2 separate regions of the Homo sapiens genome follow, and region 1 is linked to region 2. The links come from fine-mapping of genetic effects on gene expression. A gene starts in region 2. The other region holds a variant in brackets. All regions are shown on one strand. Distances are from middle to middle.

Region 1 (5,342 bases), 32 kb after region 2:
GCTTGCTACTATGCCCAGCTATTTTTTTTATTTTTTATTTTTATTTTGTAGTGATGGGGTGTGTTTCCTAGGCTGATCTTGAACTCCTGGGCTCAAGCAATCCTCCTGCCTCGGCCTCCCAAAGTGCTGAGATTATAGGTATGAGCCATTGCACTCAGCCTGGATTGTATTAAGGAAACTAGCTTAGTCACTAAACTGCACTTCTACTTCTGATTGGACAAGATTGGCACTTTGTAAACCAGGTTTTCTGGGATGCTGGTTTCCTTGAAGATGTTTCTAGCTGGTATTATCATATAGGATAGGCTGAGTTATGCTGCATTAACAAGCAAAACCCAAAAGGTTTATTTCTCATTCGTGCTGTATGTCCAGCAAATGTGGCTGGGCTTCATTTTAAGTCGTCCTCACTCCCAGACCTAGCCTGTAGGTGCCCCACCATTGGGGGATCGCTGATTGCCATGGCATGGTTAGAGAAATATGGTTCTTAAAGGTTCTCATCCAGAGTGGCACATCTCTCTTCTGCTCACAATGTGTTGACCAAAGCAAGTCACATGGATGGGAGCAGGGAGATGCAATCCTCTCTTGTGCCCAAAAGAGGAGCACAAGAAATACTGTTGAATAGCATTGCCAGAGGCCACAGAAAAATCTCCAAAACCAAAAATCTCTATGACCCAATAAATTCAAGAAATACTGGGTTAAAGAGAAGGAAACCAGTATATGCACTGTGAGACTTCTCAGTCTTTATTATATACATTGTAACCATCACAGACAGCCTTTAATATATACATCTTAACTATCACAGACAGCCTTCAGTATATTATATACATTATAACCATCACAGACAGCCTTCAATATATTATATACATTATAACCATCACAGACAGCCTTTAATATATACATTATAACTATCACAGCCTTTAATATATTATGTACATTGTAACTATCACAGCCTTTAATATATTATATACATTGTAACTACCACCGCCTTTAATATAGTATACCCATTGTAACTATCACAGCCTTTAATATACACATTGTTAACTACCACAGACAGCCTTTAATATATTATATACATTGTAACTATCACAGATAGCCTTTAATATATACATTGTAACTATCGCAGACAGCCCTTTGTTTGAGGGTAAAGCATGTGACTTTGTTTTCCTCCTGTTCCCTCTGCCATCCTCCAGGGCCTCACACACAATAGGCTCTCAAATATTGCAACCATCTTGCACTCTGCAGGGCAACCTCATGGCTTATCCTTTACAAGTGGCATACTCAGAAGAATAACGAGGAAGAAAGTGTAAGAAAAGAGGGCTGTTTGGGCAAAGAAAATCTGGTTGATTCGATGTTTACAGAGTGCCAGGCCCCATGCTTGATCTCATGAGGTCCTCAGACCTTATGCCTTAGGCTATCATTTCCATTTTACAGATAAGGAATTGAGGCTCAGGGAACTGAGAGTGAGGGAAGGGCAGGGGCCTGGCTGGTGCTGGGTTCTGTCTCTTTCCAGGCAAGAAGGGACATGTGGACTTGAATATTTAGCTCAGGGATGTTGGAGGCCTAGGGTGCTGCTATTTAAATGGAAAGGGTGTCAGGGTTTCTGGGAGGGAGTAAGGGGACAGAAGAAAAGATGCTTCTGTTATCAGAAGGGAGTGGCAACGTGACAGGATACTGAAGCTTCCTCTTTTCTTATTCTGTCTCGTTTCTTTCAATATACTTATCACAATGTGTGGCTGATATTTATTATGCCTTTTTCTTTTCTATTCTCTTTTCTTTTTTGGGGCAGGGGAGCTGTTTTGCCACCAAAACCTAAGCCCATGGCCGTCTTCTTCACCGATATGACTGGTTCTCATGCAAGCACCTAGATGGCCCTCGCCCATAATTACTGGCTGCAGTTGAGTGAATAGCGGTCATTATCTAGCGCCCACCGTGTGCCCGGCCCGGTGCCGGGAGCTTTGCTTTCCGTCTCTCACATTAGGCCCTTTTAATCCAACCCCCAAGAAGGAGACACGACCATCGTCTTCATTTTGACGATTTTGAGTGGGGGTTCCAATGACTTGAACGAAAGGAGCCAGGGCACCAATCCGGGTTTGTGTAGCAGATGCCGGTGAGACCCGACTACTGCAGCTCGGGGGTGGCCGGACCCGGGGTCTCCCCGCTGAGTCTCGGGGCTTCACCGGCGCGTGGGCACAAGCACAGCACCCTCGGGTCGGGGGTGCTAGGAGGGCTAAGAGCAGCAGGACTTGAGTGACACCCAACAGCTGGTCTGATCTCTTTCAGGCGCCAACGCCAGACGCCAGCCTCCCAGCGGACCCTCTCGCAGACCCACCTTCACCCCACGCGCCCTCCCCACACAGTCCACGCGCCAGCAGCTTCGCGGATGTCAGTGAACGCTCTTCGCTTGCGCAGTCAGAACGTCCTCCGCGGCCGTGTGAACATCCGGGTCACAGGCGCATAAGGACCAATGAGCGAAGGCATCGCGAGCCAGGGGGCGCGGAGAAGGCGGGGAATCATGGCCGCCCCCAGTGTTCCGCGTCCGGGGGTTTGTGGGAG[T/C]TGCCTTGACCTGCAGCTCCGCCACCGCGGACCCGCCTTCTGCCCTCAGCAGCAGACGCTCTGTCCCGCCCGGGCAGCTCTGCGAGGCAGCGGCTGGAGAGGGAACCATGGGGACTGTGCACGCCCGGGTAAGAGGCCCAGCGACCCGCGGGCTGCGAGGCCTCTGGGCCAGCAGGGCAGACGGGCGCCGCGGGGAGACGCTCTCGTGGCTGCGCCCAGGGTTCACCGGGAGAGAGGGTGCCAAGGGTGCCGGGCTGGGTGGAGGAGGCCGAAAAGAGGTCGCCTCGGGCCAGCGAGTCTTGCAGACCTTCGAGCAGGAACCTGATAGGAGGGACGAGACTTGGCTAAAGGTCACTCGGCGAGTCCGTGGCCCAAAGGACTTGCCAACTTTCTGTGATGTCTTAGACCGCAGTGAATGTGCTCTTTCTTTGCATGATTTTAAGTTTTCTCTCTTTACTGGTCACTTCCAGCCTTTCCCCGCTCAGCCGCTGCTGGAGCCATTGTAGGCTCCTAGAGCAACAAGAATCCTTTGAAGTCTTCTAACTCAAACCTATCTAGGGGTCCTCTTTTCTCCTGTCTACCGTGCAAAAGACGGAACCGCTCTCTGCCTTACTTCCTGTTTTAAAGTGGAGGTAGTAATAGTACCTACCTCGCCTGGCTTAAAAGAGAATTAAAAGACAATGCATGTGAATACTTGGGTGCCTGGCGCCTGACTAACTGTACTGGTTGCCAAACTCCTCTCGTTTATCCTAATCTTAAATAAGGGCCAGATAATGAGTTACTTCTCCAAGGTCACATAGTTACTGGTTCCAAATGGCCTAAAACCTCAGATTTCCTGAGTCTCAGCCCCAACACTACTTTTCTACTGCAACTTTGATTGCTTCACTTGACCTGCATAGACGTTTTCAGTAGTTCCCCATTAACTTCCAAAAAAATTTAGCACAGAAGTCGCAGCCTGACATCGATAATTGGACTTAACTTCCCTTTATATGTCTTTCATTCAGATCAAACACCGTTTCTCTTCTGACATCTCTTTGTGTAACTGTAATAGGTCTGTTGCTCAGTGTGCTCGATAAGTCAATACACTCAGACAGTGGGTTGCAGCAGAGAAAGAGTTTCAGTTGCAGGGCCGCTGAACGAGGAGATGGGAAAAGAGAGGAAACCTCAAATCCATCTCCTTCAGGAGTTTGGACCTCATGTTTTTGCTGAAGTGTGGAGATCCTTGATTGGTGGAAGAGTGAAGGGTGAAGTTATGGGACAGGGAGATGAGGAAACTTCTCATGCTGATTCCGTTCCTCTGTTGCGGGGAGGAGTCTTCAAACTGGTTGGCAGCATCAGTTTTGCTGGAATTCGAGATCTGAAAAACATCTAAAGCAACTCTTAAGCAAAAGCCTTATGATTCTAATTTTAGAAATCCTATCTGTAAAATCAATGGGGATGCAAATAGTATCTGTGACTTTTGGTTACTAGCAAGTAGGTCAGAGTGCAACCTGAGCTCTTCCTGCCATCTTGGCTCCTGTGGCGGCCTGCCGGGAGCAGGACTTCTGAAAGGAAATATGTCTGGAAGGCTGTGGTCCAAGGCCATTTTTGCTGGCTATAAGTGGAGTCTCCGGAACCAAAGGGAGCACACAGCTCTTCTTAAAATTGAAGGTGTTTATGCCCGAGATGAAACAGAATTCTATTTGGGCTCATGTATACAAAGCAAAGAACAACATAGTGACTCCTGGCGGCAAATCAAACAAAGCCAGAGTAATCTGGGGAAAGGTAACTCGGGCCCACAGAAACAATGGCATGATTCGTGCCAAATTCTGAAGCAATCTTCCTGCTAAGGCTGTTGGACACAGAATCCGAGTAATGCTGTACCCCTCAAGGATTTAAACTAATGAAAAGTCAATAAATCAATGTGGATTTGTGCTCTTGAAAAAAAAAAGGCAACTTGATTAATGGTTAATTGTAACTACATTTCTTTTGAGATGGAGTCTCACTGTGTTGCCCAGGCTGGAGTGCAATGGTGCAATCTCCACTCACTGCAACCTCCGCCTCCCAGGTTCAAGCGATTCTCCTGCCTCAGCCTCCCATGTAGCTGGGATTATAGGCGCACGCCACCACACCCAGCCAATTTTTGTATTTTTAGTAGAGACGGGGGTTTCATCATGTTGGCCAGGCTGGTCTTGAACTCCTGACCTCAAGTGATCATCCCGCCTCGGCCTCCCAAAGTGCTGAGATTACAGGTGTGAGCCACTGCGCCCAGCCAATTATAACTACATTTCTGTCCAGATGTCCAGAATAATTTTTTTTGTTGTTGTTGAGACAGAGTCTTGCTCTGTGCCCAGGCTGGAGTGCAGTGGCACGGTCTTGGCTCACTGCAAGCTCCACCTCCCAGATTCACACCATTCTCCTGCTTCAGCCTCCTGAATAGCTGGGACCACAGGCGCCTGCCACCATGTTCGGCTAATTTTTTGTATTAGTAGAGACGGGGTTTCACTGTTAGCTAGGATGGTCTCGATCTCCTGACCTTGTGATCCGCCTGCCTCGGCCTTCCAAAGTGCTGAGATTACAGGCATGAGTCACCACGCCTGGCCTTTGTCCAGAATTCTTGTTAGCCCTGTGAGGATGGCTTTATTTGGACCGCACTATTGCACTTCATTCCCCCTCCCATCATCCATCTTTAGCATCAAAATATTCCCATCTTTTAGAACTCCGTTCTGAAAGTTCTTTATCCCCTGCATTTGGATGGGCTTCGCCTTTCCGTGCCATTTCCTTTGGTGCCATTTACATTTTGGCTTGTTTTG
Region 2 (5,347 bases):
ACACTGAGTTCAAGATAAGAAATGTTTATAACTCTGTGCTGGCAGCCAAGAGCTGGATCCCAGTTGCAGATGGGGCTATGCGTAGCAGTGAGAGTGGGAGACACAGAGACAGGGACTGAGAGAGAGAGAGAGAGAGATGGGATCAGGGATAAGGGCAGTACTGCCAGGCACTGGGCTGGGTGCTTTCTGTTCATCACATTTAACTTCACAATGCCCCTCACACAACTGTTTTCTCCCCCATGGTACAGATATAAAAAGTGAAGCTCTGAGAGATGAAATGATGCTTGCGAGTCTTGTGCACTGGCTGTCTGATGCCAAAGCTTGCAGTCTCAACCATGATATCATGTGCCTGTCCCACTGGAGGCTGGATGGGGGGCTGAGAGAGCTGGACCATGAAACCCTTGCCCAGCTGGGTCCTCTCTTTGTCTCTGGAAAGTGGGGAGGGCCCCCAGCTGCTGTCTACATGCAGTGACGAAGAGGGGGTGAGTCCTCAGCCCTGCTCCTGTCCTGCCCACATCTGGGTCACACTGGGGATGACAGATGTCCAGTGTGGCTGGCCAAGAATGAATGCCGGTGGACAGGAAGAGAATATGAATGCCTGTGGCTGGTGGCAGGGTGACTCATCTCGGGCCTTCGGTCACAGCCTCAAATTCCTGTGCCAGAGCCTGGCCCTCCTGTCATTAGTCCTAAGACTGGTCATGCAATGCAGGAGGGATGGATGGGTACAGGAGGCTAGAGGTTCTGACCCCAGCTGTCCCCTCCAGAAGCCTCAGTTCCGCCGCAGCCCTGAGCGTGAGGTGGGGGTGGAGGGCAGTTAGGGCAGGACTGTAGGTAATGCCCCTCTCCAGCAAAGCCAACACGTCAGGAATAGATGGGACCCCCTGTCTGCTTCTCAGCTCTCCTGACCTTCCCCGGGACTTAGGACCTGACCCTGCCTTGCTCTGGGCCTCCATCTACAAAGTGTCTATGTGATGAGGCAGTCAGCCCAGGTATTCACTAAGGCCTGAAGCTCCCATGCCCTGGGATTCCTGCCCAGAGAAAGGAGGCAGCCCTGCTCCCAGCTCCCCTACCCCTCCAGGCAAGGCAAAAGCAAGGACTGCAGCAGAATGGGGAAGCTCAGTTGAACATGAACCACCCAACCAATCCAGGTGCTTCTCAGGTGACATTTGGAATCCTGACAGCAATGTCACCTGTTTTACAACACCACCAGTCATTCTGCAGTTGAGGACACTGAGCCACAAAGAGGGCAGAGGCCTGACCCCAAAGCTCACATACTCTGCATTCCTCCAGGTCTCACGGAGAAGGGGGAGGGCTTCCTGGTCCACTCCAGCTGGGGGCGCTATGGCCCGGCAGACCAGGGTCCTCCAGTGAGGAGCTCTGGACCAAGGTCTAACTTGGCTCCATGTACTGCTGTGGGCTTGCTCCACCCAGTGCCAGGGGTAGGTCAAGGTCAAGGGGCCTCTTAGGCATCTCCTAAGGGCATGCTACTATCCAAATGTTTGTGTCCCCACTAAAGGTCATCTGTTGAAATCCTACACCTTAAGGTGATGATCTTTGGAGGCGGGGGCCTTTGGAAGGTGATTTGATGAGAGGGTGGCACCCTTATGAATGGGATTGGTGCCCTTATCAAAGAGGCCCAGAGGTGAGGATGTGGCAAGATGGCACCTTCTACGAGCCATACCTCTCACCAGGGACCAAATCTGCTGGTATCTTGAACTTGGGCTTTCCAGCCTCCAGAACTGTGAGACAGAGAAATAAGCCAGGCGAAGTGGCTCACCCCTGTAATCCCAGCATTTTGGGAGGCTGAGGTGGGTGATGACTTGAGGTCAGGAGTTCTAGACTAGCCTGGCCAACATGGTGAAACCCCATCTCTACTAAAAATACAAAAAATTAGTCAGGCATGGTGGCGCATGCTTGTAATCCCAGCTACTCGTGAGGCTGAGGCAGGAGAATCCCTTGAACCCGGGAGGAAGAGGCTGCAGTGGGCCAAGATCGTGCCATTGCACTCCAGCCTGGGGGGAAAAAGATAGAAATAAATCTCTTGTTTGTAAGCCCCTCCGCTTTAAGGTGTTTTGTTTTCGCACCTGAACGGACTAAGGGACTAAGGGACCAGGAATCATCCAGGCCTCAGCTTCCCAAAGCACTCCCCACTCCCCAGTTCCTACAGGGCCCCGACCCCAGCCCCAGCACCCGTCATTCACATTTTTTACTTACAAAGGAAACTTTGAAATGGACACTTCCTGTTACTTTCATTCAATGAAAAAAATCCCCAGCACTTGAAGGCAATCATACAGAAAGCCTGCAACAACGCAGAGAGTAGACTCTTCAGGTGGTGGTGCCTGCTTTAGGCTGGCTCTCCCCGGGTCAAAAGGGACGTGATAAAGTGTTAAAGTGATGTTAAGGATCAAGTGGGCACCAACTGCGACTCCCCTCCCACCCCCCGACTTAACAGATGTCAAGGAAAACAGAAGGAAGCCGTTTCTCTCCAGGACATGCAGTGTCTGCTGGAGTTTTGGAAAAATGCTTTCTCTCGAGTCGCTGCGGGGAGCTCCCAGGCTGGACCCCCCCGCACAGGTCCTCCGCCATCGCCCTCCCAGCCCCCGCCCCCAATCCCCCTCCCAGACCCGGTCCCCGCCCCCATCCCCCGCCAGACGTCGTCCCCACCCCCATCCCCCTCCAAGCCCCGCCCGGGAGGGCGTCCTGCCCGCTCATTGGGCCTCCCGCCGGCTCATTTGCATGGTCCGAGGGGGGCGGGGCTGACGTCGCGCTGGGAATGCCCTGGCCGAGACACTGAGGCAGGGTAGAGAGCGCTTGCGGGCGCCGGGCGGAGCTGCTGCGGATCAGGACCCGAGCCGATTCCCGATCCCGACCCAGATCCTAACCCGCGCCCCCGCCCCGCCGCCGCCGCCATGTACGACGCAGAGCGCGGCTGGAGCTTGTCCTTCGCGGGCTGCGGCTTCCTGGGCTTCTACCACGTCGGGGCGACCCGCTGCCTGAGCGAGCACGCCCCGCACCTCCTCCGCGACGCGCGCATGTTGTTCGGCGCTTCGGCCGGGGCGTTGCACTGCGTCGGCGTCCTCTCCGGTATCCCGCTGGGTGCGTCTGGGGACGCTGCCCGGGCTCCACGTGCGGAGTGGGTGCCCCCTAGGCCGGGGAGCGGGGGATCCCCAGGGGTCGCGGGGCCCTGGAGGAGCGGGCATCGGACGCGGACACGGCGGGGTGCATCCCGAGGGCCCCCTCCGAGGCAGATGCTTCCTGCGGGGGCGCTGTTCCTGGGCCCGGGAAGGGGGCGTTGGAACCCCGAGCGGTCCGGGCCGAAGCCTGGGACTCTCGTGCGTCCCCACCCCTACCCCCATCAGGCGCCCGTGCATGAAGGGAGACCCTCACCTCCGGACTGAGAGTCGGAGCGTCTCGGAGCGACGGGGAGTAGGGAGCGGGACCCGGGGCGGAGGGTAGTGCTGGCCCCTGCGGACTCCGGGTCCCCTGTGTCCTCTCGGGAGGGGCTGGACGGGCTGAGCTGCCGAGGGGCCGATTTGCCCTGGGCCGGACAAAGAGTGGGGCTTTGGCCGGTCCCCCACGGTGGGCTCCTTCCCTCTGGGGATTGAGGGACTCAAGACACCCCGCGCCTGCGCTTTTCTTTTCTTTTTTTCTTTTTTTTTTTTTGAGACGGAGTTTCGCTCAGTCGCCCAGGCTGGAGTGCAGTGGCGTGATCTCAACTCACTGCAAGCTCCACCTCCCAGGTTCACGCCATTCTCCTGCCTCAGCCTCCCGAGTAGCTGGGACTACAGGCGCCAGCCACCAAGCCCGGCTAATTTTTTGTATTTTTTAGTAGAGACGGGGTTTCACCGTGTTAGCCAGGATGGTCTCGATCTCCTGACCTCGTGATCTGCCCACCTCGGCCTCCCAGAATGCTGGGGTTACAGGCGTGAGCCACTGCTCCCTGCTGCCTACGCTCTCTGGGTCGCAGCCCAGCCTTCTGGGGGCTGGGTAGCCTCCCAGAAGGGCAACCCTGGGCATCCTCCAGGGCAGGCTAACTGGAGTCTAGTGGGGAGGGGTACCTTGAAAGAGGAAAGTTGTTTCCTCCTCCTCCTCCTCCTCCAGTGTTTGGGACCCTTCCTGGGGGCTGGAGTGCATCCCTGGACACCCCCCAATCCCATCCTCTTCTCTAGTTTCCACTGACCTAGGCCCACCCTCCCCTCTCCGGCTCAGTACTCCTGGAAATGAGATTCCGTACATTTGAATCTTGTCCTAATGAAATATTTGTCCATGTGGGTACCTGTGTGTGTGTGGTGGGGGTGCAGACGGAGGGTTTGTTTCTCACTAGCTGGAACTACTGGGGTGTGGTATGCTTCCTGGGAATTTGTGTGCCACAGTCCTGGAGGCGAGGAGGGGGTTGTGAGCCAGTAGGCAGGGGCTGGGGCAAGTAGCATTGTGAAGCTATTGACACCCAGACGTCCCCAGGCAGGAGATTATGCCCCCATTAGCCCCCTTTTATCTGGGCTTCCTTAACAATGGACTCTTTGCCCTGCCTGCCAGAGCCAGCAGGGAGTGACTGTTCAGTGGTGAGGAAGCGGGCAGAGGAAGCCCTGCCATTGGGTAGGAGCAGTGGGCAGCCCCTGGGCTGACTGGGAGGTGGGGATTAGGGATTAGACAGTCCTGGCTGTCTGCCTTCCCCTAAGCCAGGGGGAGAGGAGCAAAGGGCACGAAATGTGGCCTCCAGGAGGATTAGACCGCCACATGATCATTTGCACACCCTGGGGTTTAGCAACAATAAAAGTCAGCTTTTTTGTATCCCAAGGTGGCCTGTGGACACCCACATGGACAAATGTTTACACTGGGACAGAATTCAAATGCAGAGGTCCCAGGAGCCTAAAGTACACTCACTCTGGTATAGAAAGGATTCCTTACTGGGCAGAGGACAGGTGCAGCCTGGGGCTTTCCCAGGCAGGACACAGGGAGGCTCAGGAACCACCAAGTCCCTGGAAGGTGGATCTGGAGGCGTTGGCAGGAGCCACTCCCTGGGTTCCAGGGCTCCAGGTTCCTGCTTTAACCCCCTGTCTCACAGAGGGCTGTGCACTTGGGGGCTGCTGAGCATGTCCCAGAGGCTGCATCCTGGACACAGCACCTCAGTGCATCTGAGCTGAGGCTAACTTGGCAGGAGGGACAGGCAGAACCTGCCAGCCACGTGCAATTCCACCCCTCTGGCCACTCAGGGAAGGAGAGCTGTGAGTCAAGATCAGATTTGGGTCAGGACAGGCTGGGGCCTGCCTGTCCCTGTGCATCCCAAGATTTATGGCTGGCCAGGGGTTGGGCTGGGAGGGGTGGTCTTGCATGCCAGGAGAGTGCA

The links. PIP is the estimated chance that this variant, and not a neighbour inherited with it, causes the effect.
Region 1: its variant is the best candidate, but not a certain one, in a credible set for the expression of PNPLA3 in blood mononuclear cells (TOPMed, PIP 0.62).

The regions. Positions count from the first base shown.
Region 1 is chr22:43,952,921-43,958,262 of GRCh38, forward strand. It overlaps SAMM50 (SAMM50 sorting and assembly machinery component), which reads left to right and starts at 2,522. Exons shown (of 15, transcript NM_015380.5): 1 at 2,522-2,678. The coding sequence starts at 2,658. It also overlaps the pseudogene RPL35AP36. RefSeq lists enhancers at 1,747-2,499, 2,167-2,216, 2,297-2,376, 2,500-3,251, 3,057-3,266 and a silencer at 2,340-2,614. The variant T/C (reference allele first, on the strand shown) is at 2,551.
Region 2 is chr22:43,921,003-43,926,349 of GRCh38, forward strand. It overlaps PNPLA3 (patatin like domain 3, 1-acylglycerol-3-phosphate O-acyltransferase), which reads left to right and starts at 2,803. Exons shown (of 9, transcript NM_025225.3): 1 at 2,803-3,096. The coding sequence starts at 2,910. RefSeq lists enhancers at 701-1,201, 2,618-3,362, 3,363-4,105.